4 linked regions of the Homo sapiens genome follow. The protein of the gene in region 1 interacts with the protein of each later gene in a pairwise test. Each region holds a gene or a part of one and is shown in the gene's direction. Other genes may lie near its edges. The genes, in order: CAMK2B, TNPO2, ZMYM5 and SPRYD7.

Region 1 (7,540 bases):
GCCAGGCTTTCTGCTTTAGCACAGCCTTTGTGCCTGCAGTTGGAAGCTACACAGGGTGGGATGGAAGGGGCCTGAGTGCAGAGTCTTCTGACACATGCTAGGAGGCCATTTCCACGATGACAAATCCCTGGTGTCCACTACAGGGAAGGAGGATCTGGGAGCCACTTATGGGCCATCTGGGACCTGCTCCTATCAGCCTAACTACTCCTAGCTGCTAGATATACCTGCGTTGGGGGCCTGCCTGGGCTGGGACAGTGCCTGGACTTCTGGGGCCTAGGGCCTGAGGCAACTCCAGGAGGATGGAGGTGACACCAATGAGGACAGCTAAGGTGGGGTCAGTCAGGAAGGGTCCACCTCGCCTGGTAGCCAGAGAGTGCCAGGGGTGCTCCAGGGAGCCCCAGCCAGCAGAGGGGGGGGTGGCCCAGAGCCTCAGCCTGGCAGCAGACTTAGCAGGGGTTGCTCTCACTTCCCTCCCTTTGCCCAAGGGCACAGTATCTCCGGGACAGGTGCTGGTGTCCAACTTATGCTTGGATGCTTGGTGAGAAGGGAGGAAGTCTAGGGGGTTCTCACCCTATGTTCTCGGGCCAAGCCTCTGAGCCAAGCCTGTGGATGCTGCTCCCGGCCCAGGGCCATAATGGTTAGTTGGCTTTATCACTTTGCTTGTTAGTCATCAAGGTGGTTCCAAATCCCTTGGAGGACTCAGGTGACATCTGCCAATAAGCCACTGACAAAATGCCCTTGCTGGGTCTGACTGCTTCACCCTCTTCCCCACCGTCTTCATTCCCTAAACACACCAGCTAGTGCCTGCCACAGGGCCTTTGCATGGCAGCCTCTTCTGCCAACACCCTGCCCTTTGGCTCTCAAGGGTAGCCTCTCTGTTTCATTCAGACTTCAGCTTAGACATCACCTCCTCAGAAAGCTCTTCCATGGACTTCCACTCTGAAGTTGCCACCCTGTCACTCTCTAGCACACCACTTTGTTTTAAATCTACATACAACATGAGTACTAGATGCATTCTTGTTTGCTTGTTATCAAGCTCTGCAAAGGCAGAATCCTTTTCTATCTCATTCCCTGATGTGACTGAGTGCCTGGACAGAGCTGGGCACACAGTAACTGCACAAAGAAGGCTGGTGGACACCCCTAAGCAGGACACAGTGGTTAAAGGAACCAGCCACAAAGTCAGGCAGATCCAGATGCCAATACTAAACTAGCTGTCTGACCTGAGGCCAGTTAGAGTCTGTGTCTCAATTTCCTCATTTGTAAAAGGGAGGCAATGATAATGCTATGAAGTTTATTCAAAATGGTGGATGTTGGACTTTTAGAATGGTTTAGGGCAGGTGATGAGTGAATTGTAAATTGTAGCTATGGCCTTCATCATCACCATCACCATCACCACCATCATCATTGTCACCAACACCATCATTATCACCACCACCATCACCATCCCCACCACCACCACCATCAGCAGCACCACCATCACCACCACCATGACCATCACCATCATTGTCACCAACACCATCATTATCATTATTACCACCACCACCAGCACCACCATTACCATCATTATCATTATCACCACCACCACCACCATCATTACCATCATTATCGTAACCATCACCACCATAGCCACTCCATGTGCTTGCCACTGTGTCCTGTATGGGCTGCCATGTCAAGGGCCAGATGATGGGAGATGGATGGACTAGGGTCTTCCTGCTCTGGGAACCACAGCCTGCTCTCCCTGGTGGATGGCTGGGCCTGAGAGAGGAGGTGCAGTGACACCCTTCCACATGACAGCAGTCCCTGGAGGTGAGGGGGACAGGGGAGGCGTGGCTTTCTTTGGGATAATGAACCCCATGTGCAGCACTTTTGGCTCTGCAGATGTGATGCTTGTTGCCATGGTGACCGTCCTAACAATAACCTCCCAGAACTGATATTCCCCACACCCTCCCCAGCTGCCACCTGGGAGGGAGAGCCCTCCTCGCTTACGAAAGCAAGCTTGAAAGGACAAGGTGGGAGGCAGAGATGACACGGGGGTTGGGGTGGAAGTGGGCCCTTCCTGAAGGCAGGGGTGGGAAGAGGGGGAAGTCTGGGCCTCTCTGACCAGAGCCAAAGCCAGATGAGAGGGCTTCTGGAATCTGGGACCAGAGAGTCATGGCTGGAAGTCTTTCTCCCTTCTACCCATTTTCCTATGATAGGGAGAAGCCGTCTGGGTCTGAGGGTGGGGACTGGGCTGTTTTTTGAGTGTTAGTGTGGGGTCAAGCTGTCTGGGTAGGGACAGTCTGGCTGCCTCTGATAGCCCAGCCCTTCCCCACTGTCTGGTGCCCAATCATGCCAACCTTCCTGCGCTCGCCAGGGTAGCTCTGCTTCATACCTCTAATATTTCAGCTCGGAGGAGGGACTGCCTGGGGGTCCCAGGTGCTAACAGGTACAAAAGGCGGGAAGAAGTATAGGATACAATGAATCTCAAATTGCATCTCTTAGTGACCCCACATTCTTGTGTAACCCTGGTCCTGGGCAGCTTCTCAACTTTTGAAAGGTGACCTCGGCCGGGTGCAGTGGCTCATGCCTGTAATCCTAGCACTTTGGGAGGCCGAGGTGGGTGGATCACCTGAGGTCAGGAGTTTGAGACCAGCCTGGCCCACATAGCTGGGGCTGTGAGCCACTGTGAGCTTGTTACAGGCGTGAGCCACCGTGCTTGGCTTGTTATTTGTATTCTGTTGTGTGGCCCTACCTCGTCTTTCCAGAGCTCAGAAAGGGAAAATATGGATGCATCCAGCAGGTGCTGGAAGAAACTCCTGTGGGGTTAAACACAACGCCAAGAACAAACCTCAGACTTGGCCTCCAGTCCTTTCTCGAGCCCATGCCAGTCTGTCTGTTAGGATGGCCCAGGATTCTCTGAGTCCAAGTCTGACATAGACGGGGTCTCCCTTCCTGCTATGGTCCTGCTGAAGTCAAGGCCAGGATCCCTCTGCTTCCTCAGCTGGGGACTTCCCCAGGTGGCCCAGCATTTGCCTTTGGCCTGAGAATTTCTCGTCCTCTAGTGTCTTCTGGGTGCAGGTGGGTCGATGGCAGGGACTTGTTGCCGTGTGGTCTACTAATTGCCCAGCAGTCCCATGCCAAATGCATCCTGGCCCAGAAGGGCCCTGGCTGCCAGCACTCAGAATGCCTTTATCCCCTCCCTTATCCACATGACATTTATTGTGGCTTCTGGGGCTTGCCCTGGGCTGGCCACGAGGTGAGAGGGATGAGCAGGATAGGCCCAGAATTGGTCCTTGGGGAGCAGTAAGGAAGTCATATCAGGGCAGCAGCGTGACCCAAATCCAGAGCTGGCTGCTGGAAACCCCCTCCTCAGAGCCTGCCCAGGATGGACCCCGTCAGAGAAGAGTGTGGGGATGCTGGAGCCCAGTGGTCTAAAGTCCCGGTTCTGGACAGCAGCCCTGGTGCCAGGCCTCAGGGAAGGCTGTTTTGTGGGAAACCGGGTCGCCCTGCCTCCTGCCTGCCTCCCTGCACTCTCCTCCTCCTTGGCTGCTTTCAGGAGGGGGTTGGGGTGTGTGGGCCCTCCTCCTCCAGGCAAAAGCAGGGGGCAGGCAGGTGGACCGTGCTGGAAAAGGAGAGAATGTGCACCTTTACCTGATCAGGGTGGCTGTGAGCTCTCAGGCCCCCCAAATTGCTGGTGGAGCAGCCCCTGTTCCCCTGGCTCAGGGTCCGTTGGTCTGGACTCCGAATGTTGCCTCCTGGGACCTCCATTCCAGACAACCCAGCAACCAGTCTTTGGAGAAGTGAGGGGGAAGGGAGGGGCTGGGGCCAAGGGGAGGGGGCAGGCCCCACCCTTTCACTTTCTCATGCTAGTGACCCAGTGTGTACACTGCCTTCTGGGCGGTTCCTCCTGGCCAGGCAGCCTTTGGGGCATGTGTGGCTGATGGAGACTGGGCAGAAGGGATCTGGCAGCATCTCTTCCTGAGGGTGTGAGGAATGAGTCCTGTGGAGGGCAGCACATGAGCCCTCTACCTCCATGTGGGCCCCAGTCCCCTCCTGCTGTCAGGCTAGGTGGGCCTTCGAGAGAGAGAGAGGAGGCTGCGTTCATTATGTGCACTCTTCTGTGTTATGTGAGAGCGAGGGGTCGGCAGCAGCAAGTGGCCTGCGTGCGCGAGGTGCGGGCGTGGTGCGGGTAGAGGATGAAGGCGTCAGTACAGGGCGCGGGTGTGTGTGTGGGGTGCGGGGGCGGGCGGGGGCGGGCGCGCGTGTGAGTGCAGGTGCAGGTGCAGGTGCGTTGCGGGTGCGGGGCAAGGGTGTGTGTGCAGGGCGCGTGTGCAGATGCAGGGCGCCGGTGCCCTGCGGGTGCGGGTGCAGGAGCAGCGTGTGCAGGGCGCGGGGAAGGCGCGTGCAGGGGGCGGCGGGCGGGGCGGGCGCGGCGGCGGCGGCGGTGACAGCGGCGCCCGCGCCTCCCCGCGCGTAGGTGTGCGGCGCGCTCCTGGCGAGGACGGAGCGAGCAGATCTCGCGTGCGCTCGCCGCCCGGCGCAGCCCAGCCCGGCCCCCGCCTGGCGCCGCGAGCCGAGGTGTCTCCCGCGCCCGCGCCCGTGTCGCCGCCGTGCCCGCGAGCGGGAGCCGGAGTCGCCGCCGCCCGAGCGCAGCCGAGCGCACGCCGAGCCCGTCCGCCGCCGCCATGGCCACCACGGTGACCTGCACCCGCTTCACCGACGAGTACCAGCTCTACGAGGATATTGGCAAGTAAGAGCAGCGGCGCGCGCGGGCTGGGCCGGGGACCCCAGAGGGCCGGGACCTCCGGGACCCTCCGCGCCGCCGGCTCCAGGCGCACTGCGGGCCCGCGCGCCGCCGGCTTCTCTGGGCTCCGGGCCCAAGCGCACGGCCCCGCGCGGCCCCGACCCGCGAGCCCCCGGCCCCGGGCCTGGCTGCCTGACCTCAGCGCGCGCGGCCCTGCCCAGCTCTGCCCAGCGCGGCTGCCGGGCCGGGGCTCCGGGCTCGCGACTTGGCGCGGCGGGGGCGGCAGCAGGTGTCCCCGGAGCGCCCGGCAGACGTGACGCATTTGGCGGCGGGGAGGTCAGAGAGGAGGGGCGCGCGGGGGTGGCCCCCGGGCCTGGAGCGCCGGGAGGGGTCGGCTGCGGCCCCAGAGGGTCGTCCCCGACGCGGGTGCGCTGTCCCCACCCCCACCCGAGCGGCAGGCGGCGGGGGTGGCGGGACCTGCTTGCGCCTGCTCCTGCGCGTGGCCCCATCCGCGCTGGGGGTGCCGGCGTGGGAGAGCCTCTGCTGTAGGTCCCCTGGGGAATCTGGGTTCTGGAGGATTTTCCCCCAGATTCTTCTGGAAACAGGAATTTGGAGGTGTGGGGAGGACGAGGTCAGGGAGCCTGGATCAGGTCATGGGGATAGCGGGGAGAGACTAAGAGCCTGACTGGATTGCAAATTTCAGGGTCATCGAGGTGGATGGGGGCTGGATTTTGGACTGTTGGCGGGGGCGCCCTAAAGGGGAAGGGGCTTTGAAGGTTTGTTTGAAGTGGGACCTCACGGGGAACAGGTGCTGTGGCTCCCGTTCTCTCCTTGGCAGTATGAGCAGTGTAGGGCGAAGGTCTGGTTCGTGGTCCCCGGACCCGGCTTTGCCCCTGGGGTGAGATGGGGAGCGCCTCAGGGGCCTCCTGTCTGGCCTGGGGTCTCCCGTTCTGAGAATCAAGGTGGCTGCACCTGGCATCCCTAGGGCTAGCTTCAGAACTCCTGAATCTCCAGCCTGACTGGGCCAGAGCCCCATCCTCCTGCGTCCTCCCCCATCCTCCTCCGTCCCTTCAGTGCAGGCGGTGGGGGCGCTGGCGGTGCTGGCGAGATTTCCTCTTACACATCCAGCAACAGATCCTTTTTTTCCTTTACTAAATAAGTGTCTGGTGAAACCTTGTGGTGGGTGAGGGACGCTGATCATTGATAATTGTGGAGTGCGGAGCTGGAGGAGTGTGGGGGTGTGTTCATTCCCCACTTCTCCCTGCACGTGTGGAGAGAATTCTGGTAGGGGTTAGGGATGTGGAGCCCAGCCCTGCAAGAAGCCCATGCTGGATGGGTGGGGTGGGGGGCCAGGCTGGCTGGGGGACCCTTCCTTGGGTGGATCTGGAGAGCACCACAGGGCTGAGACCTCGAGGGAGAGGGCGAGCCCAGCCCCCTTCATGCGGATCCCTGAGTGGGTGGCTGGCTCCCCGGTCTTCACCCCTCAGATGCACCGATCTACCCCCGTCTGTCCTCTTGGCCTCCAGAGGTGTCCTGGCCACTGGAGGGGCAGGTGGGTGGCAGTTAATGTGCCTGGTTCTCTGAGGAAGAGAGCAACAGTGGGAAGTCAGTCTTTCCTCAGGAGCCTTCTTGTTGTCTTTTCTGCTTGCGCTCAGAAGCACAGAGGCCCTCACAGCAGGTGTCCCTGGTCTTCTCCAAAGAAGCCACTTTCAAGACCTCCCCATGTGCACCCAGTGTCCTCAGACTGCAGCTCACTCTGGCTGTTCCTTCTTCCCTTTGCTGCGAGCCTCCCTGCGTCCAGCGGCAGTGTCCGGGTGGCCAGCTCCCCGCTGAGCCTCCGATTCCAGCGCAGCTGGATGTCCTGGCCAGTGCCACCCACACTGGGGAATGGAGGTCTTTGGGGCTGCCTGGGGAAGGTTGAGAGAGGTGGCTCCAGAGGTGGAGACCAGGTGGGGCTAAGACTGCTGGGCTTCTCTGTCAAGCCAGAGAATGAGCTGCTGCTGGAAAGGAGCGAGTGTGGCCTCCTGAGCGAAAGCACTGGGAGCCATGCATTGCGAGGTGAGGAGTGGGGCCTGGCATCGAGGGGAGCCCCATGACCTGGGACAAGAGGAGATGCCCAAGCCAGGAGCAGGCAGCTCAGCCTAGTGCACCTTTGTGGAGCCCTGCTAGGCGCCGGGTCCCTGGCGACGCCAAGGGCCTACCACTGCCCTGCTGTGGCGGCTCTTGGGTAGGGAAGGGACCGATTCCTCGGGGGTGCAGCCGTGCCATAGAGGTGGGCCAGGGAGCTGGGAGGGCAGAGCAGGGCACCTAAGGGGGATGTCTGAGGCCAGGGCTCAGTTGTGGGCACTCAGCCCATTTGCAGCGCTGGGGTCCCTTGGTTGTTATGCTGGCTGGTTGTTGACAGTGCCTGCCCAGGGCACAGTTGGTGTTGCTTCCTGGCCCCAGGTGGACATGTCCAAGTTTATTTAAAGCTGCAGCCACTGGCACCCAGTCAGGTGGCGCTGAGCTCCCTGCCCAAAGGAAGGGCTTGGCCTCAGGCCCACAGCTGCTCATGTGTGACGAGGCCACTGGCCTTTCCCCTCCCTTGCCCCATCCTTTTCTGCTGTCTCTGCTCCCGAATCTTCCCCAGAGGCCTGGGCAGCAGGGTCAGCCAGCCAAGAGGGGCCGCTTTCTGGGGCCCTGCCCTGCCCAGCTCTATAGGGAGTGTGTGCCCTTCCCTGCTCAGCCTGGCAGGGCTCACAGACACTAGCCTGGTGGCCCATGTGGGAGCAGGTACAGAGCAAGGCAAGGAAGCCCTCAGCCCGGCATGGCCCAGCC
Region 2 (7,291 bases), on another chromosome or scaffold:
ACTCAGAGAAACACGGCCTCAGCAAGTAGAGGGTGGAAGGCACAGGGCTGTGGTCCTGGGAGTGGGCTGAGGTGGGCCTACCCCGGTACACCACAGGCTCTCAGATTTTGCCAGATGCAGTCTGTGCAGGTTGGGGTGGAGCACTGACTCATGTAACAAATGATGAGCATCTGCTATGTGAAGTCAGCTACCTAAACAGACAAAAACCCTGCCCTGCCAAGAATGGTGGCTCACATCTGTAATCCCAGTGACTGGGGAGGCCGAGACACAGGTGGATCACTTGAGCCCAGGAGTTCGAGACCAGCCTGGACAACACAGCAAGACCTTTCTTGCTACAAAAAATAAAAGTTGGCTGGGCGTGGTGGCTCACGCCTGTAATCTCACCACTTTGGGAGGCTGAGGCAGAAGGATCACTTGAGGCCAGGAGTTCGAGACCAGCCTGGCCAATGTGGTGCAACCCTGTCTCTACTAAAAATACAAAAAATTAGCCGGGCGTGGTGGCGCGCACCTGTAATACCAGCTATTCGGGAGGCTGAGGCAGGAGAATGTCCTGAATCTGAGAAGGCAAAGGTTGCAGTGAGCCAAGATTGTGCCACTATACTTCAGCCCGGGCAACAAAGTGAGATTCCGTCTCAAAAAAAAAAAAAACAAACAGCCTAGCTGTCGTGGTGGCTCACGCCTATAATCTCAGCACTTTGGGAGGCCAAGGCGGGCAGATCACAAGGTCAGGAGTTCAAGACCAGCCTGACCAACATGGTGAAACCCTATCTACTAAAAATACAAAAATTAGCTGGGGGTGGTGGCCCACGCCTGTAATCCCAGCTACTTGGGAGGCTGAGGCAGGAGAATCGCTTGAACTGGGGAGGCAGAGGTTGCAGTGACTACACTCCAGCCTGGGCAACAGAGTGAGACTCCATCTCAAAAAATTAAAAAAAAAAAAAAGAATAGGATACCTTTCCTCTTTCGCTTCCTGCTAACACACAATAAGGTTTTTCTGCTTTACTTTGCATGTGGGCTGAAAGGTCTCTCCCTCCTACTTTGGGGATGCTAAGCTAGCCCAGGTGTGACTTTGGCCTTGGGGGTGGAGTATGGGGGGAGGGAACACAGGAAGCTAATGGAGCCATCCCTACCTCCTCCTCCCCCAAAGCCACCAGCAGAGACTGGATCTTTAAAAAGCAACAGAAGCCTGGGAAGTAGGTCGCCCTGCAGCATCTCAGCCTCTATTCTAGTGTCAAGAGGCAGGAGAGGCTGAAAGTCCAGGCACATCCCTTTACAGTACTTACCTGCTCTGACCTGAGAAAAGTCTGAAGAGGGAGGAGAATCATATCCAGGTTTTGGTGAGTCACACAGCCCTGGCTTCTGACTATTCTAGTGCCTGTTGACTGTGTGATCTTGGGTAAGTCACTTAGCTTTTCTGTACTTCAGGTTCTTCATCTATCAAATAGGGGTAAAATAAAGAAGCATCTCTAGAGTCAAGTTCTAAAGTAAGGGCAATATTCATAGAATCTAACCCTGCCATTGTTTAAAACAGCTAGTGCTTTCCAGGGTGAAGAAGTTGGCTTGCGTTTGGGGACTGTGTTAAGTTAGTTGAAGTGCTGACCTTTGAACTCGGGGGACAGTGTGATGAGAGGCTTGGGAAGGGAGGCTGCTGTAAATTGAGAACACGTTTGTCTCACATTTCAGATTCGCGGTTGGACACCAATTCTTTTTTTTTTTTTTTTGAGACAGAGTCTCGCTCTGTCGCCTAGGCTGGAGTGCAGTGGCGCGATCTTGGCTCACTGCAAGCTGCGCCTCCTGGGTTCACGCCATTCTCCTGCCTCAGCCTTCCGAGTAGCTGGGACTACAGGCGGTCGCCACCACGCCTGGCTATTTTTTTTTGTATTTTTAGTAGAGACAGGGTTTCACCGTGTTAGCCAGGATGGTCTTGATCTCCTGACCTTGTGATCTGCCCGCCTCGGCCTCCCAAAATGCTGGGATTACAGGCATGAACGTGAGCCACCGCGCCCGGCTGGTTGGACACCAATTCTGTGAGTTTCTTTTGGCACAGAGAGCTTCTAATTGAACTAGGGTAAGTTTGCCAGGCATAGGGCTGTTGTGAGATTTGCATGAGATAACATTTGGCCTTTTTTTTTTTTTTTTTTTTTTTTGAGACAGAGTCTCGCTCTGTCGCCCAGGCTGGAGTGAAGTGGTGTGATCTTGGCTCACTGCAACCTCCGCCTCCCGTGTTCAAGCGATTCTCCTGCCTCAGCCTCCTGAGTAGCTGGGATTATAAGCGCAGGCCACCACTCCTGGCTAATTTTTTTGTATTTTTAGTAGAGACAGGGTTTCACTGTGTTAGCCAGAAGATGGTCTCAATCTCCTGACCTCGTGATCTGCCCTCGGCCTCCCAAAGTGCTGAGATTACAGGCATGAGCCACCACATCCGGTATTAATGAGATAACATTTGGAAACCACTTGACATGCAGTAGGTGCTTAAGAAATAGGAAAAAAGGCCAGGCATGGTGGCTCATGCCTGTAATACCAGCACTTGGGGAGGCCAAGGCAGGTGGATCACCTGAGGTCGGGAATTCGAGACCAGCCTGACCAACATGGAGAAACCCGGTCTCTACTAAAAATACAAAATTAGCAGGGCGTGGTAGCACATGCCTGTAATCCCAGCTACTCGCGAGGCTGAGGCAGGAGAATCACTTGAACCCGGGAGGCAGAGGTTGTGGTGAGCCGAAATTGCACCATTGCACTCCAGCCTGGGCAACAAGAGCAAAACTCCACCTCAAAATAAAAAAAAAAAAAAAAAAGGAAAAAAGGCCAGGCACGGTGGCTCACACCTGTAATCCCAGCACTTTTTGGGAGGCCAAGGCGGGCAGATCACAAGGTCAGGAGTTCAAGATCAGCCTCGCCAATATGGTGAAACCCTGTTTCTACTAAAAATACAAAAATTAGCTGGGTGTGGTGGCGGGTGCCTGTAGTCCCAGGTACTCGGGAGGCTGAGGCAGAATAGCTTGAATCCCGGAGGCGGAGGTTGCAATGAGCTGAGATCCCACCATTGCACTCCAGCCTGGGCGACAGGGCAAGACAGTGTCTCAAAAAAAAAAAAAAAAAAAAAAAAAAAAAAAAAAAAAGAAAGAAAGAAAGAAATAGGAAAACTGGGCCGGGCACAGTAATCCCAGCACTTTGGGAGGTCGAGGCAGGTGGATCACCTGAGGTCAGGAGTTCAAGACCAGCCTGGCCAACATGGCAAAACCCCATCTCTATTAAAAATGCAAAAAATTAGCCTGGCGTGGTGGCAGGCGCCTGTAATTCCAGCTACTCGGAAGGCTGAGGCAGGAGAATCGCTTGAATCCGGGGGCGGAGGTTGCAGTGAGCCGAGATTGAGCCATTGCACTTCAGCCGGGACAATGAGAGCAAGACACCATCTCAAAAAACAAAAAAACAAAAAAAGCCAGGCGCGGTGGCTCACGCCTGTAATCCCAACACTTTGGGAGGCCAAGGCAGGCAGATCATGAGGTCAAGAAATCAAGACCATCCTGGTCAACATTGTGAAACCCCATCTCTATTAAAAAAAATTAGCCGGGCGTGGTGGCGCATGCCTGTAATCCCAGCTACTCGGGAGGCTGAGGCAGGAGAATCGCTTGAACCCGGGAGGCGGAGGTTACAATGAGCTGAGATCGCGCCACTGCACTTCAGCCTTGTAACAGAGCGAGACTCCGTCTCAAAAACAAAACAAAACAAAACAAAGAAATAGAAAAACAAAAACAACAAAACAACAAAAACCCAAAACCTTGTCCTGATTCAACACTCAAATTCACCAGCTGGAGAGGAAGAAAAAATTCCGTGACCACACAAGGGCCAACAATGTGGACCACACATGCAGCAGGGGCTACTTTGTTCTGCCCCAAGGCTTGCGGAGGGCCGCTGAAAATTTGCCATATTATATGAAGGGGGTGAACCTTAACAAATTGTCTCCTGCATCCCAAACTCGCTCCCCATCTGATCTTTATCTGGGGCAGCCCCCAAATTTGACCAGAAAGCTCTTATCGTTCACACTCGCTCCAGGAACCCCCAAATCCAGCCCCAGCTCCCCAGTCTCACTCTTCTGCTCCCCATGCACCTCGGTTGGTCTAGAGACCCTCCTGCCAATTTGAGTCTCAGCCAAAACCCCAAAGCGCGGCGACCCTGGCGCATGGCAGGACGGGATTTGTAGTTCCAGGGCTTATCGGAGGGTGGGGGAGAGGGAGGCCTTTACGCATGCCTTGGTGGCGGCTTTCTGCACGTGTTTCTCAGCCCAGGTTTCAGTCCAGCGGAACTGGCTACCTCGGAATCCCAACTGCTCCTTTAGGGTGTCTTCCGCGATTCTCCGAGTGGAGTTAGGCGCCTGCCGACACTTCCCTAACCTTGGAGGCCCGGGACTTGATTTTCATGAATGAACGGAGCCGGGACTGACTTTGCCTACGGCAAGTGGGTTGAGATAGCTGTTCCCCTCCTTCAGGCAGGGGCAAAAATTGACCTCTGCCTCTCTCGAGGGTCAAAAAGTTCCTCAGGGCAGGGTGGGTTGTTCTTTGGGATTAGAGCTGGTGAATTCATTAAATATCGGCTTAGGGAGGGGCTGAATACAGTAAAAGAACAGCCTTGAGCCTTGGAGGGTAAAGCCACGTTTTTAAGGAACAATTCAGAGCTGGCCAGGTCATGCTTAACTTGGATGATCTCTAATCGCGCGAACTGCTCTTATACCCATTTGACAAGTGGGGAAACTGAGGCTTCAAGTGGCAGGAGGTCTCCCACTTTGTTATCGGCAGGGCAGGGAGGGGAAACCAAGACGCTACAGGGTCTCCAGCTTTTTACCATCTGCTCCTCTCTCAAGAGAAGGAAAAACGGTGCCCTACTGTCTTCAGACGTCGCAAGGATCAAGAAGATTTCTTTCTTCATGACCCTGCCCTTGCCAGAATTTCCTGCGCTGTTCCACCTCATTCAACTTCAGGTAGGGAAAGGGATTAGGCGTGGTTCAAAGTTTATTTTATTAGTTCATTTCGTTTTATTCAAAAATTTATATCCTTGTGGCTTTTTCATCTCCTTGTAAAAACTATCAAACAGTACTGGAAAATAATGCAAAAAGTGGCAGAGGCTTCTGTAGGAACCCGGCTTGTCTCAGGCACTTACTTTGTCCTGCTTTCTTTCCTTTGTCTCTGGGGTATAAAGAGCACGCTCAGCTCTTTCCTTGCGCACACACAGCGTACTCCTCCCAAGTACCTCTGGATGGGGGAAGGGAGGCACATTTCAATTTTTAGTGGAGGAAGGTGACAAGGAGGGTGCTGGCTCTGGCCGAGGGGTTCCTGGATCCATCACACACAAAGTCCCCACGCGCTACCAAACTCCTGGCTCCAGCTAAAGAGCTTGCGGTCAGGTCAGTGAAAGATGCTGGGAAAACGAGACACTGGGAGGACCGGCTGGCTAGAGAGGCCAAAGAAACGGCAACTCTTTGGTCACGTGACCGGACCTTGTCTCAGCCCGGGTTTCCCAAGTGCCAGGGCACGTGTGAAGGTTGAACCTTCCGATTGGCTCGGCGGGACCAGTTTGAACGGAGTACGGGAGCCGCGGCGGCTCACCTACGGCCGCGTTTTTCTTTTTTTTTTTTCTTTCTTTCTTTTTTTTTTTTTTTTTTTTTTTTAATTCTCTCTCTTTGGCTCCCTCCTTCCGCGCGAGTCTCTGGAGAAGCCGCAGCGCGAGTTGCCGCCGCTGCTGCCCGGGGCCGGGTAAGTGGGCCTCACTCAGAGCCCGACCCTCTTGGCCCCGGCTTGCGTCGACCCCCGCCGGGCACCGAGCCTGCGCCGCGCGCGGCCCGGGCGTCGGGGCCGCGCCCGACCGGGAAAGGCCGGGAAGCCGGTTGGGCCCGATCCTCCTGGCAGCTAGAACGGGCCGGGCGGGGGAGGGGGGAACCGAGCAGAGCTTAGGGGGTGGGGCCTCGGAGCCAGGCCATGTCGGGGCTCCTCAAGAAGAGGGCCAGTGGGACTGCTGGGGTCGGGCTGGAGGGGATCTGATTGGGGGAAGCGTCTGGGGACTGCTTGGGGCCTGATTGGGGGACGTCGCGAGGATCGGGTGTGTGTAGGGGCCTGTTTCGGTGGGGCTTGGTTGGGTCTGATTGGGGGAGGCCGCACTGAAAAGTTGAGCGGGGTGGGGGGAGGGGAGCTCGTTGGGTCCTGACAGGGAGGGGCGTCAGACTTCGGCCTAGAGGGTTTTCTTGGATCTGACTTCGAGGCGTTGCTGGGATCCGTTGAGGGGAATGCCCCGGGGGGTGTTTACCCAGGCCGAACTGGGGGAGGCTGCAAGGATCGGACCAGGGGGTTACTGACACGAGGTGGTGGGGGGCTCGGCCGAACTTGACTGGGAGAGGCAACAGAGATCCGTCAGCAGGGGTTACTGCTGACAGGGTCGGAGGGAATTTCAGGGAGAGGCTTGGCCAGACCTGATTGGGGAAGGCGACTGGGATCGGTCCAGGGGGCTCCTATAGTGGGTTGGCCGGGCTTGGCTGGCTCTCATTCGAAGAGGCAGCAGAGACCTACCTGGGGACTGCTTTGGGCCTGATTAAGGGGAATCCTTAGAATTTGGCTAGGCCACAGAGGGGGATATCTGGCATCCACTGAGCTTGAAGGGCAGGAACAGGGGACAGGAGAGATCAGGACGATCGTCTTGGGAGGGCGCATCTGGGGAAGCTCAGAAATTGGACTAGGGCAGGAGGCCTCTGGGATCTGGCAGAAGTTAAGGGCAGAGTGTCGGGGGAAGGGGACTCTTCAGGGACTGTGCCTGCATAGAAGAGACCACGGGGGCCGGGGCGCTATCACGGTCTGGGGCGGGGCCCCTGGATGTGGAGGCGGCTGGGCCCTCGCCCAGCCGCTGCGAGGGAGGTGGAAGCCTTCGGGCTCGGAGCCGGGGTCAGCGGCATGGGCCACCCTGGGACGAGGGCTCTTCGCTGGGTCCCATGAGGATCCGCCGGGCCCCGCCGCCGCCGCCTGTGGCCCGTTTCCACATCCCCCCTCCCGCGCTCCCGAGCCCGCGACTGCGCGGCCGAGGATGGCGCAGCTGGCGGGGACCCCGCACTTGGGCGGGCGTGGATCGGAGGCCTCCGCCTGTCCGCCGAGGGCGTTCCCGTCGTCATGCGGCCACCGCGGCCTCAGGGGCTCCACCTGGGTCTCACACGGAGCCCCAGAGACCCAGCGCTGACCCCGGCCCCTACCTCCGCAGCTTGCCTTGCGCCATGGACTGGCAGCCAGACGAGCAGGGCCTGCAGCAGGTCCTGCAG
Region 3 (2,668 bases), on another chromosome or scaffold:
TTTGGGACAGGGTCTCACTCTTTCGCCCAGACTGGAGTGCAGTGGCGCGATCTCAGCTCAGCTCAACCTCTGCCTCCTGGGTTCAGGCGATTCTCCTGCCTCAGCCTCCAGAGGAGCTGGGATTACAGGCGCATGCCACTGTGGCCCGGCTAATTTTTGTATTTTTAGTAGAGACAGGGTTTCACCATATTGGCCAGACTTGTTCTCGAACTCCTGACCTCAAATGATCCATCCACCTTGGCCTCCCAAAGTGCTGGGATTACAGGCATGAACCACCGCACCCGACCGTCGTCGTCTTTTTGATTGGCATTTCTTTGATGCCTAATGATGAGCATGTGCTTATTGAGCATTTGAATATACATTAATTTTTAAAAGTTTAACCTAAAATAAAATTATAATCCTCTTTGTCCTCAGATGATGGAAACAAAATCAAAAAAATTAACAGCATCAGAAAATAGAAAAAGGAATGCTTTTAGAGAAGAAAATGAGAAACAATTATATGGATCGTCAAATACACTTTTGAAAAAAATAGAGGGAATCCCAGAAAAAAAGGAAAAGACTTCACAGCTACAGCTTTCAGTAGAATGTGGCACGGATACATTACTGATCCAAGAGAATGTGAATTTACCTCCTTCTTCCACGTCAACCATAGCTGATACATTTCAAGAGCAACTGGAAGAGAAAAATTTTGAAGACTCCATTGTACCAGTTGTGCTTTCCGCAGATCCAGGTACGTGGCCCCGAATTTTGAATATTAAACAACGGGACACTCTTGTTGAAAATGTTCCGCCTCAAGTAAGAAATTTTAACTTTCCAAAAGATAATACAGGGAGGAAGTTTTCAGAAACTTATTATACACGGATTCTTCCAAATGGTGAAAAAACCACTAGATCCTGGTTACTTTATTCAACCTCAAAAGATTCTGTGTTTTGTCTATATTGCAAACTCTTTGGGGAAGGAAAAAATCAACTGAAAAATGAAAATGGGTGCAAAGATTGGCAACATTTATCACATATTCTTAGTAAACATGAAGAAAGTGAAATGCACGTCAACAATAGTGTTAAGTACTCAAAATTAAAATCTGATCTGAAAAAAAATAAAGCTATTGATGCTGCAGAACACAGATTATATGAAAATGAGAAAAATGATGGTGTGCTGTTGTTGTACACGTAATATACCTGAGTTGTTTTTTGGCATGATGATCAGAATCTTACATTACTCAGAAAACATCTGTCCTGCAATAGTCAGTACTATTGTGTTGTAAGTCTCCTCTACAGAGTAACTTGCAGCAGTTCCTTAGCAATAAGTATGATAGCAAATAAATAGCAAAGAATGTTTCCATTCTAAATCTAAAACTAATTAGATTCAATCATCATTAGGCAATGACTTCATTAGGCAATGAAGATTAACAATAGGTAATTGTTAATCTTCAAAATCTATCAATTTACACCTATTTAAAAATTGGCATTTAATGACTGCCATTTGATGGGTTTGGTTAATATTCTGTTCTTGGCCGGGCGCAATGGCTCACGCCTGTAATCCAAGAACTTTGGGAGGCTCAGGCGGGTAGATCAATTGAGGTCAGAAGTTCAAGACCAGCCTGGCCAACGTGGCAAAACCTCGTCTTTACTAAAAATACAAAAATTAGCCAGGTGTGGTGGCACACACCTGTAGTCCCAGCTACTCAGGAGGCTGAGGCAGGAGAATCGCTTGAACCCAGGAGGCAGAGGTTGCAGTGAGCTGAGATTGCACCACTGCAGTCCAGCCTGAGCAACAGAGCGAGAGTCAGTCTCAAAAGAAAGAAAAATATTATGTTCTAATTACCTTGAAAGAGGAAAGAAAGGCTTGAATTGATCAATACCAGTTTGAATAAGATACTTATGTGAACAAGCATTCTCAACATTATTATTAAAGTAAAACTACTCAGTTTACAGAATGGGATCTGAAACTACAGCTTTTTGCTATTAAACCAAATACTTGTGATCTACTTTGTTTGAGCAAAACAGCATTATTTGTTATGTTAATGATGGTTAATTTCCATTTTATTGGTTTTATGTTTATTTTAATTTGTAAATGTTTTAGCATTTATTATTGTATGTGAACTATATTTACCTATTTTATGTTGATAAAAATATAAAAAATATTAAAATAAGTATATATTAAGTTAACCTTCAAGTGTTATGGGCTTTTTTCTCCCTGTGAAAAGAGATGGCATGCTTGAAATTTGAGATACACCAATGAAAATTAAGGATTTAAGTTATTTTAGATGGTCAGCAGCCCCATCACTGTGTATTTAGTAAATCTCCCTTCTGTTTCTGATTTCTGATGTCAATTTTGTAATATATTAAATTTTTATATACTATTCCTGTGAAACAAAATGGCATATGAGCAGTGACTAGGACAGAAGGTGCGTTCTTGTGGGATGACACTAGGAATACTTGCAGACTCTCAATGATACCAGTGTATATATTTTTGGAATACCCGTGAAAGTAATCCTCATTAACTTCTAACCATTTTGAGTGTTTGTTTGTTTGTTTGTTTTAAATAAAGATGGGGTCTACTATGTTGTCCAAGCTGATCTTCAACTCCTGGTCTCAAGCGATTCTCCCACCTCAGCCTCTCAAAGTGCTGGAATTACAGACTTGAGCTACTATGCCCAGCCACCATT
Region 4 (8,057 bases), on another chromosome or scaffold:
GTTGAAAGTTTTTGGTAAATCACATTTTCTATTCTCTGAGACCTTTTTTATGTAGCACTTGCTATTGCTTTTTCTTCATTTTAAATATTAAAAAAATTGTTCTATTTTTATTTCTTTTGTACCTTTTTCAAATTCCTTTATTTTACCCCAGCTTCTTTTTCTTCCTAATGCCAAGTCTCTGCATTTTCCAAGTCTCCAACCTGGTTTACCTGTCTTAGCAATTAAAAGTACTATGTTGACCAGGCTGGTCTCAAACTCCTGACTTCAGGTGATTCGCCCTCCTCAGCCTCCCAAAGTGCGTTTCTACTAAAAATACAAAAATTAGCTGGTTGTGGTGGCGGGCGTCGGTAATCCCAGCTACTCAGGAGGCTGAGGCAGAAGAATCGATTGATCCCAGGAGACAGAGGCTGCAGTGAACTGAGATCGCACCATTGCACTCCAGCCTGGGCGACAAGAGTAAGACTCTGTCTCAAAAAAAAAAAAAAAGTACTAAACAGGCCAGGCAGGGTGGCTCATGCCTATAATCCCAGCGCTTCGGGAGGCCAAGGTGAGTGGATCCCTTGAGCCTAGGAGTTCAAGACCAGCCTGGGCAACATGGTGAAACCCCATCTCTATAAAAAACACAAAAAATTAGCCAGGCGTGGTGGTGCCACTGCACTCCAGTCTGGGCAACAGAGTGAGACCCTGTCTCAAAAAAAGAAAAAGAAGAAAAAAAGTACTAAATATCGTTTTTTTTTTCCGGTAGAGACAGCCTGTTAAGGACAAACCTGCAAAATATTAATATTCAAAGGCACCGCTAAGAGAACCAACTAATGGCAGTCTGTTGCAGTTACAAGGTTGACGTTATTTTCCTTATTTATTTTTGGTTGTTCAATCTAGGTAATATAACTTATAATTCAGGAAATCCAGATTAAATGAGCACAATTCATGCCAAGTAAATTTAAATGTCAGTCTCTGAGGAAAGGGGATAGAAGGAGACAAATACAAATTAGGAATGTATATTCATTTTTTATTTTTTTATTTTTTTTTTGAGATAGAGTCTTGCTCTGTCACCCAGGCTGGAGTGCAATGGCACGATCTTGGTTCACTGCAACCTCCGCCTCTGGGTTCAAGCGATTCTCCTGCCTCAGCCTCCCAAGTAGCTGGGATTACAGGCACACACTGCCATGCCCGGCTAATTTTTTTGTTTGTTTTTAGTAGAGACAGGGTTTCACCATGTTGCCCAGGCTGGTTTCGAACTCCTGAGCTCAGGCAGTCCATATCCCTCGGCCTCCCAAAGTGCTGGGATTACAGGCGTGAACCACCGCACCAGACCTAGGAATGTATTTTTAAATGTAACACCCTAGGAGGCAGTTTGCAGAGTGGTTAAGAACACAGACCCTAGAGCCAGAATGTCTGTTTGAATTTAGCTTCATCCTTCATTGACTGTGCAACTTTTGAGTACATTTCTTATTTTTTCTTCAGCTTCCTCATCTGTAAAGTGGAGGATAGTTTTTCCCTCACATGGTTGTTACAAAGACTAAATTAGTTTATTTTTAAAAAACACTTAGAACAGTGCCTGGCAATAATAAGCACTACATAAATGTCAATCACTATTAGTTACTCAAAATTATAATAATGAATTGGTCAAGGCTCCAGAAATATGTCAGTTTTTAGAAAAATGAGTTTTTGTTAATGTTTCTGATTTTTAAAAAGATCACAAATGTGGTTTGGATTAGTCTAAGGAAAAATGTTTTGTTTAATAACTGATTAATGAGTTTTTAAAAACTCATTTCGTATGACCCAGTACAGAATGGGAAATTCACTAACAGAAGACGTCCAGCTGGCATAAAAAACATTAAAGAAAATCTTAAGCATAATGCTAATCTCAACTCTGAAACACAAGCTTTACATTATTGTTCTCAGTTCTCGAGTTCCTGGCATGTCTTGGAAGCAGACAGACTCTTTTTTTGAAGTAGTCATTCTTTCTTATTGCTTATGACTTAGATAAATGACCTTGAGAAACTATTTTTGGCTTTATTTGTGATTGTTATTTAAAGCGATAGCTGTGAAAGAGTGTCAAAACATCTTTAACGTTGTGCTTTTCAAAAAGAGAGGATAATTCCTTTGAAAGTAATAATGAATGGATATTAGAATCCCAGATATTAGAAGGAAAAGTGAGCTCATGGATGGTGTTAATCTGCCAAGACAGGGAAGTCTGTTTCAGGAGCTAACCAGTTTTGCTAACTTCATTCTGCTGAGCACACTCGAGTTGCTAGGATGGGGGCAAAGTGCACCGGGCAGCGCCCCAGCAAATTACTTTTCCAGCTAGGAAAGACTATGGCCCTTCTGCCTCTCTATAGTAATGTCCAATTCACGGCCATTTAGTGTCTGGCTTTTCATTGAAGATGTGACTGACTTGAATGGCCTAAATGTTTATTACATATATAATACATGTACTTCTTTTAATAATATTTCTGAACAAAATTTTTACTTTATAACAACTAATTCTATTATATTTTGTCTATACATGCATTATGGCAGCTTATATCCAATGTGGAGATAAATGAAACACACAAAAAAGGGCAAATCTGCATTTTGAACTGAGAGCATGTTTAAGAGGATTATAGCATTAATTATAAGAGAAAGAATTTGAGAGGCAGTGTTAAAGCAAACTAAATATGGCCTGAGAAGGACTCTGTACTTCTGTATTTGAGTCCTTGTGTACGAACTGTAACCTAGGTTAATAGGCAGACAAGCTTGAAAACCTAATTTAGGAGTATGCACCTGTAACAATAGCTGAGTCTTGGCCAATCCCAGCGGCCATACTTCAACCAGTCATACACTGCTGATTGTTCAAACTGTGTTCAAATAAGGCAAACGCCCCCCTGTAACCAATGCAGCTGTTTCTGTATCTCACTGCTGATTTCTGTACGTCACTTCCCTCTTTTTGTCTAAAAATTTGTTCTGACCACGAGGCATCCCTGGAGTCTCTCTGAATCTGCTGTGATTCTGGGGGCTGCCCAGTCATTCACTGCTCAGTTTAACTCCTTTAAATTTAGTTCAGCTGAAGTTTTTCTTCTAACAGGAATCAGACTGGTAAGCCTTGAATCCTACCTGTTTATCTCCTGCTCACCTGAAGTTGTAAAGTTTAGTACCTCTAGGCCTATTTCTTCACCTATAAAATGGGGACAATACTGACCTTGAAATCTTGAAATAATTCAACTAGATATATATATATGAACGGTAGAAAAATTTTGTCTCTCCAATATTCTGTTAAAATTCTCACCCCCTGCCCCGCCCCCAGCACTTCCCTGGGGTTAAAAAAAAAAAAAAAAAAAAAAATCAAAGCACTTAATTCCCAGCATAACGATGAAGGTTTGTCATAAAAGAAAATTTCTTGTGTGAAATGATTACCAAGAAAGTACTGCATACGCAATGGGGGAAAAGACCAACCCTCAATCAGTTTAATAATCACCTTGGTTATTAAATTCTATGGTAACTTAATTTCAACGTACAAAACTTTCCCTTAGTATTGTAATGAAAACACCATTTATAGAAAGAGAACCAGGAACCTGAAAAATTCCCCTCATTGCATAGATAGAAATCCTCCTTAAAAAACATTTATAACTCGGGTCACTAAAAGTTACGTATGGGAAATCATTATTTAAGTAGTGGGCATTTTATGTCCAGTTTCCCAGGACTTGATGATCCATCCCTAGGGAAGCCTTCAGGATGAAACTGATCTGGGAACAGAGGTTTGAGCTAGGTTAATTCTAGAGGTCGTCCCAGACATTTCCAGATGCCAAGCGGTATCTTTTTTTTTTTTTTTTTTTTTTTGGAGACAGAGTCTCTGTTGCCCAGGCTGGAGGGCAGTGGCGCGATCTAGGCTCACTGTAACCTCCGCCTCCCGGGTTTAAGCGATTCTCGTGCCACAACCTCCTGAGTGGCTGGGATTACAGGCGTGCACCACCGCACCCAGCTAATTTTTGTATTTTTAGTAGAGACGGGGTTTCACCATGTTGGCCATCCTGGTCTTGAACTCCTGACCTCAGGTGATCCGCCCACCTCAGCCTCCCAAAGTGCTGGGATTACAGGCGTGAGCCACTGCACCCGGCCTGAAGATGTAAAATCTACCACGGAAGGATGATCTAAGTGGGGAAGGAGATGACAGGTGACAGCCTCCCGTGTGGAAGCAGAAAGTAGCGGACGGTAGGAGCCGAAGGCTTCCCTCGGGACCCAGCAGACTTCCCGCAGCCTCCTGGGTTCCCGTCACATTCCTCGGAACCCTCAGTGCACCAGACAGGGGGAGCTTGGAAGAGGCAGGTCAAGAATCGCCCCCGACCCCGCCCCAGCGTTCTGCTCCCAGGGCGGCCTCCCACGCGCCCCGGACCACGCAGCCCGATGGGCCAGGTAGGGCGCGTCTCTGCACCGAAAATGCATTAGGGCCCGCGTGAGCCCCGGTGAACATCCACAGTGCAGTCACTAACAGGCATTACTCCTGGGGCCCACGTGAGTCTATTTAGCATGTGAGGGAAACCAGCCACGGCAGGGAGACTGGGGCTCTCCGTGGTGGCAAAGCCTGCTCAACCTGGGCCCGCGGAGGGAAAACTCGGAAGTCATTTCCATTAGCTCCCCTTCCCCCAAACTGATTCGCTTCTGTCAATCCATCCCTAGAAATAATGTCGAGGCCGGGACCAAGGGGTGCTGCGTTTTAAAAATTCTGCATAGGAAAACCCCTGGAAGTACTGAGGGACAGACAGCCCCACTCACCTGTCAGCCCTGGGGGCGTGCGCGAAACCGCCCAAGGAGAAAAAACCAGCTGGTGCGCAGGCGCACGCCGTCCCACATCCGCAGGCCCGCAACGCCACGCCCCCTGCCACGCCTCCGCGCGCCACTAGCCCCACCCGTCTCCCCGGCCCAGCCCGGCCGCTCGCCCTGTCCGGTCTCTCCCCGGCCCCTTGATTCTCCGCGTCTTCCTCGCAGGCCAGCCTAAGCTCAGCCTGCATTGCGCCCTCCCGGCCTAGGGTGTCGCTGTACCGGCCTCCGAGCTCCACATAGACAAGTCCGGACCTCGGGCGGGGGCAGGAGACGGAGCTGAGCGGCGGGGGGCAGTGTCGCCTCGGTCTAGGGACGGCGGCGGAGTCGGTGGTCCCTGCGCGATGGCCACCTCGGTGTTGTGCTGCCTGCGGTGCTGCAGAGACGGGGGGACTGGCCACATCCCTCTGAAGGAGATGCCGGCCGTGCAGCTGGACACGCAGCACATGGGTAAGGGCCCTCCCTTCCCCAGACCCAACGGCTCACGGGGGCCGGGCGCGGCGGGCAGGGGGACCTTCAGGGTCAGAGGGTCCCCACGCTGCCCCGCCGCGCCGGCGACGCTGCGCCGACACCATTTCGTCTCGCAGATCTCTCCAGAAGCCGGCGGACTCCACCTGGGCCCGGTTCTGTGTTCAAGGCTGCGCAGCCCTCTCTGTGTCTGTCATCGCGAATGGGCGTGTGGACCTCCCATTTTCACAGGAATCTCGGAGGCTTCCTCCGGAGATGTCACACGTCCTCGGGCGAGGGGGCGGAGAGTGCCCTTCTGGCGCGCCCCAGTGAAAACCTACACATTTTCAGAATGCTTCTAGGTCCGGTCTTGCTCCTCCTCCTGCCCTGACTGTCGGTCCTGTCTCTTGAGCCCCATCATTTATAGGTTGAATCCTATATTATTGGAAGTAATTTTCCTCTCACCTCCTAAAGTCGAAACAAGGCAGACTGCAGAAGTCTGAAGTCGCACCTCAGGTCAGAACTTGCCATTTCAACTAAAACCTCCCATTGCCCGACTCCTTAGTCATTGTGAGAGGTACTGTAATTTCATCTGACTGGCCTCTTCCCAACAGGTCTAACTGTTGAAAAATAAAATAGCACTTTGCTCCTTTGCATCTTGCTTTATCCTTTTAATTCCAAATCCATATAATTTATCTAACATTCTTCCTCTCCCATCATAGCCTCTTTCACCACCTTATTATTTCTTAGACTTTTCCCAGGTAGTTTCATGCTTCTGGAATGTGGTTCTAGAAGGAGAGATTTCCCAATATAATTATTTCAGTTAGAGTACTGTCTTTTTGTGGATTATTTTATTCTAACTGTACTTCTGCACTTTTGATTTTTTACACGTTTCTGATTGTTTAAAGGACAGTGCATTGAAATAAAAAGGCACTTCTTAATATTTATGATAAAACTCTCTCGCCCAGTTTCCTTATAATTCTGGAAACACTCTGCCCACTGTATTTTTGTATAACACATACTAAATGTGATAACTATATAATCACCTTGTATGTGTGTATTTACTTTTAATTCTCAGATCTCCCAAATGTAGTACAGAACCTTAATACATAAGTAATCTTTAAATTATTTTTTATCCATCATTATTTATAGACGATGGAGTTCAAATTCTATAGTTTTCCTCAGAAAATATTTCCATTTCAGTTACTCATTTACTGAAGTGATATTTATTAAGCAATTATCAGGTGGCAGGCATTGTTATAAGTGCTGAGAATATAGTGAAGGACAACCATACATAATTCCTGGAACTCATGATCAACTGCAGCACTTCTTCCTATCTTTACTGTTAGACTCTTGAATTACTGCAGTCTCCTCTTTGGAGCATTCCTTTTCTCTGTCATCTGTTTCCTCTAGGAAGAGCTGGTCAGATATACTCATTCCACTGTGTTTTATTTCTCCAAAGCTGTCCAGCAACTGTCAGCTACTAACTGGATGAAATAGAGTAATGTCATCTCCAAATTTTCTAACTGCATGGAAGTTTTTTCTTCTTCTTTTCTTTTTTTTTTTTTTTTTTTTTTGAGACGGAGTTTCACTATTGTTGCCCAGGCTGGAGTGCTGTGGCACAATCTCCACTCACTGCAACCTCCGCCTCCCGGGTTCAAGCAATTCTTCTGCCTCAGCCTCTTGAGTAGCTGGGATTACAGGCGCCCACCATCAAGCCCGGCTAATTTTTGTATTTTTAGTAGAGACAGAGTTTCACCATGTTGGTCAGGCTGGTCTCGAACTGACCTCGTGATCTGCCTGCCTCTCAGCCTCCCAAAGTGCTGGGATTATAGGGGTGAGCCACCACGCCCGGCCAGGAAGTTTTTTCTTAGCCTGTCTTTCTATAAACTTAAATTATTCAATCACAGAGGAGCCTGATTTGAGAACCTGAATAAAATGAAAGAAAAGGGTTGTTGAGTTAGAAGAACATGTTTCAAGCATGAATTGATCTTGACTTGAAAATAGAAACACATGGATTTGGTGGTGTGAAAGATTATTATATTAAATAACCTAAAAAATGTGATTGCTTTTTTTTTTTTAACAAAATTGTCTGTATACTTCAAGTGATTCTCCGAGGGTTGTCACTTATTTTAGTGATGTTGTATTACTTAAAACCACTTTGGAATTCCTCTTTTGGAATTTTCTATGGCATAATTTTTGTAAGTATTATCATTGATGCCATATCTTTGGCTTTTAATTGTGAATCGACATTTTAGAAACAAATGACTTCCAAGGCAGCTACTTTGAAAGGGACACCGCTCATTTGGAAATTTATGTTTCTTAAAACATCCTCTGTGGCTATGTTTATGTGGCATTCTGGCTGTACTCAAATTTGCCTTGACCGTCTAAGCAGCACCAATCATTAAAAGTACAGATTCTAAAACCGTCTGTGTACTTAAGAGAAATGGGATAAGCTTAAAATGATTCCCTAATGACTCATAAACACCCTGAATATTCTTTCTTTCTTTTTTTTTCTTTTTTTTTTTTTTGAGAGGGAATCTCGCTCTGTCGCCCAGGCTGGAGTGCAGTGGCCTGATCTCAGCTCACTGCAACCTCCGCCTCCTGGGTTCAATTAATTCTCCTGTCTCAGCCTCCTGAGTAGCTGGGACTATAGGCGCCCACCACCATGCCTGGCTAATTTTTGTATTTTTAGTAGAGATGGGGGTTTCACCATGTTGGCCAGGCTGGTCTTGAACTCCTGACCTCAAGTAATCTGCCTGCCTCAGCCTCCCAAAGAGCTGGGATTACAGGTGTTAGCCACCTCGCCTGGC

What was found.
Region 2: the proteins of CAMK2B (region 1) and TNPO2 interact in binary tests that used the Homo sapiens proteins (3 or more experiments, as listed by UniProt).
Region 3: the proteins of CAMK2B (region 1) and ZMYM5 interact in binary tests that used the Homo sapiens proteins (3 or more experiments, as listed by UniProt).
Region 4: the proteins of CAMK2B (region 1) and SPRYD7 interact in binary tests that used the Homo sapiens proteins (3 or more experiments, as listed by UniProt).

What each region holds. Positions count from the first base shown.
Region 1 is NC_000007.14:44,322,546-44,330,085, reverse strand, and holds the start of CAMK2B (calcium/calmodulin-dependent protein kinase type II subunit beta), read left to right. Parts: upstream 1-4,491; 5' UTR 4,492-4,664; coding exon 4,665-4,729; intron 4,730-7,530; exon of another isoform or gene 7,531-7,540. UniProt on the Homo sapiens protein: Calcium/calmodulin-dependent protein kinase that functions autonomously after Ca(2+)/calmodulin-binding and autophosphorylation, and is involved in dendritic spine and synapse formation, neuronal plasticity and regulation of sarcoplasmic reticulum Ca(2+) transport in skeletal muscle.
Region 2 is NC_000019.10:12,720,933-12,728,223, reverse strand, and holds the start of TNPO2 (transportin-2), read left to right. Parts: upstream 1-4,291; 5' UTR 4,292-4,455; intron 4,456-4,858; 5' UTR 4,859-4,975; intron 4,976-5,663; exon of another isoform or gene 5,664-5,747; intron 5,748-5,964; exon of another isoform or gene 5,965-6,090; intron 6,091-7,233; 5' UTR 7,234-7,246; coding exon 7,247-7,291. UniProt on the Homo sapiens protein: Probably functions in nuclear protein import as nuclear transport receptor. Serves as receptor for nuclear localization signals (NLS) in cargo substrates.
Region 3 is NC_000013.11:19,822,982-19,825,649, reverse strand, and holds the end of ZMYM5 (zinc finger MYM-type protein 5), read left to right. Parts: intron 1-414; coding exon 415-1,173; 3' UTR 1,174-2,168; downstream 2,169-2,668. UniProt on the Homo sapiens protein: Functions as a transcriptional regulator.
Region 4 is NC_000013.11:49,933,320-49,941,376, reverse strand, and holds the start of SPRYD7 (SPRY domain-containing protein 7), read left to right. Parts: upstream 1-5,036; 5' UTR 5,037-5,141; coding exon 5,142-5,247; intron 5,248-8,057.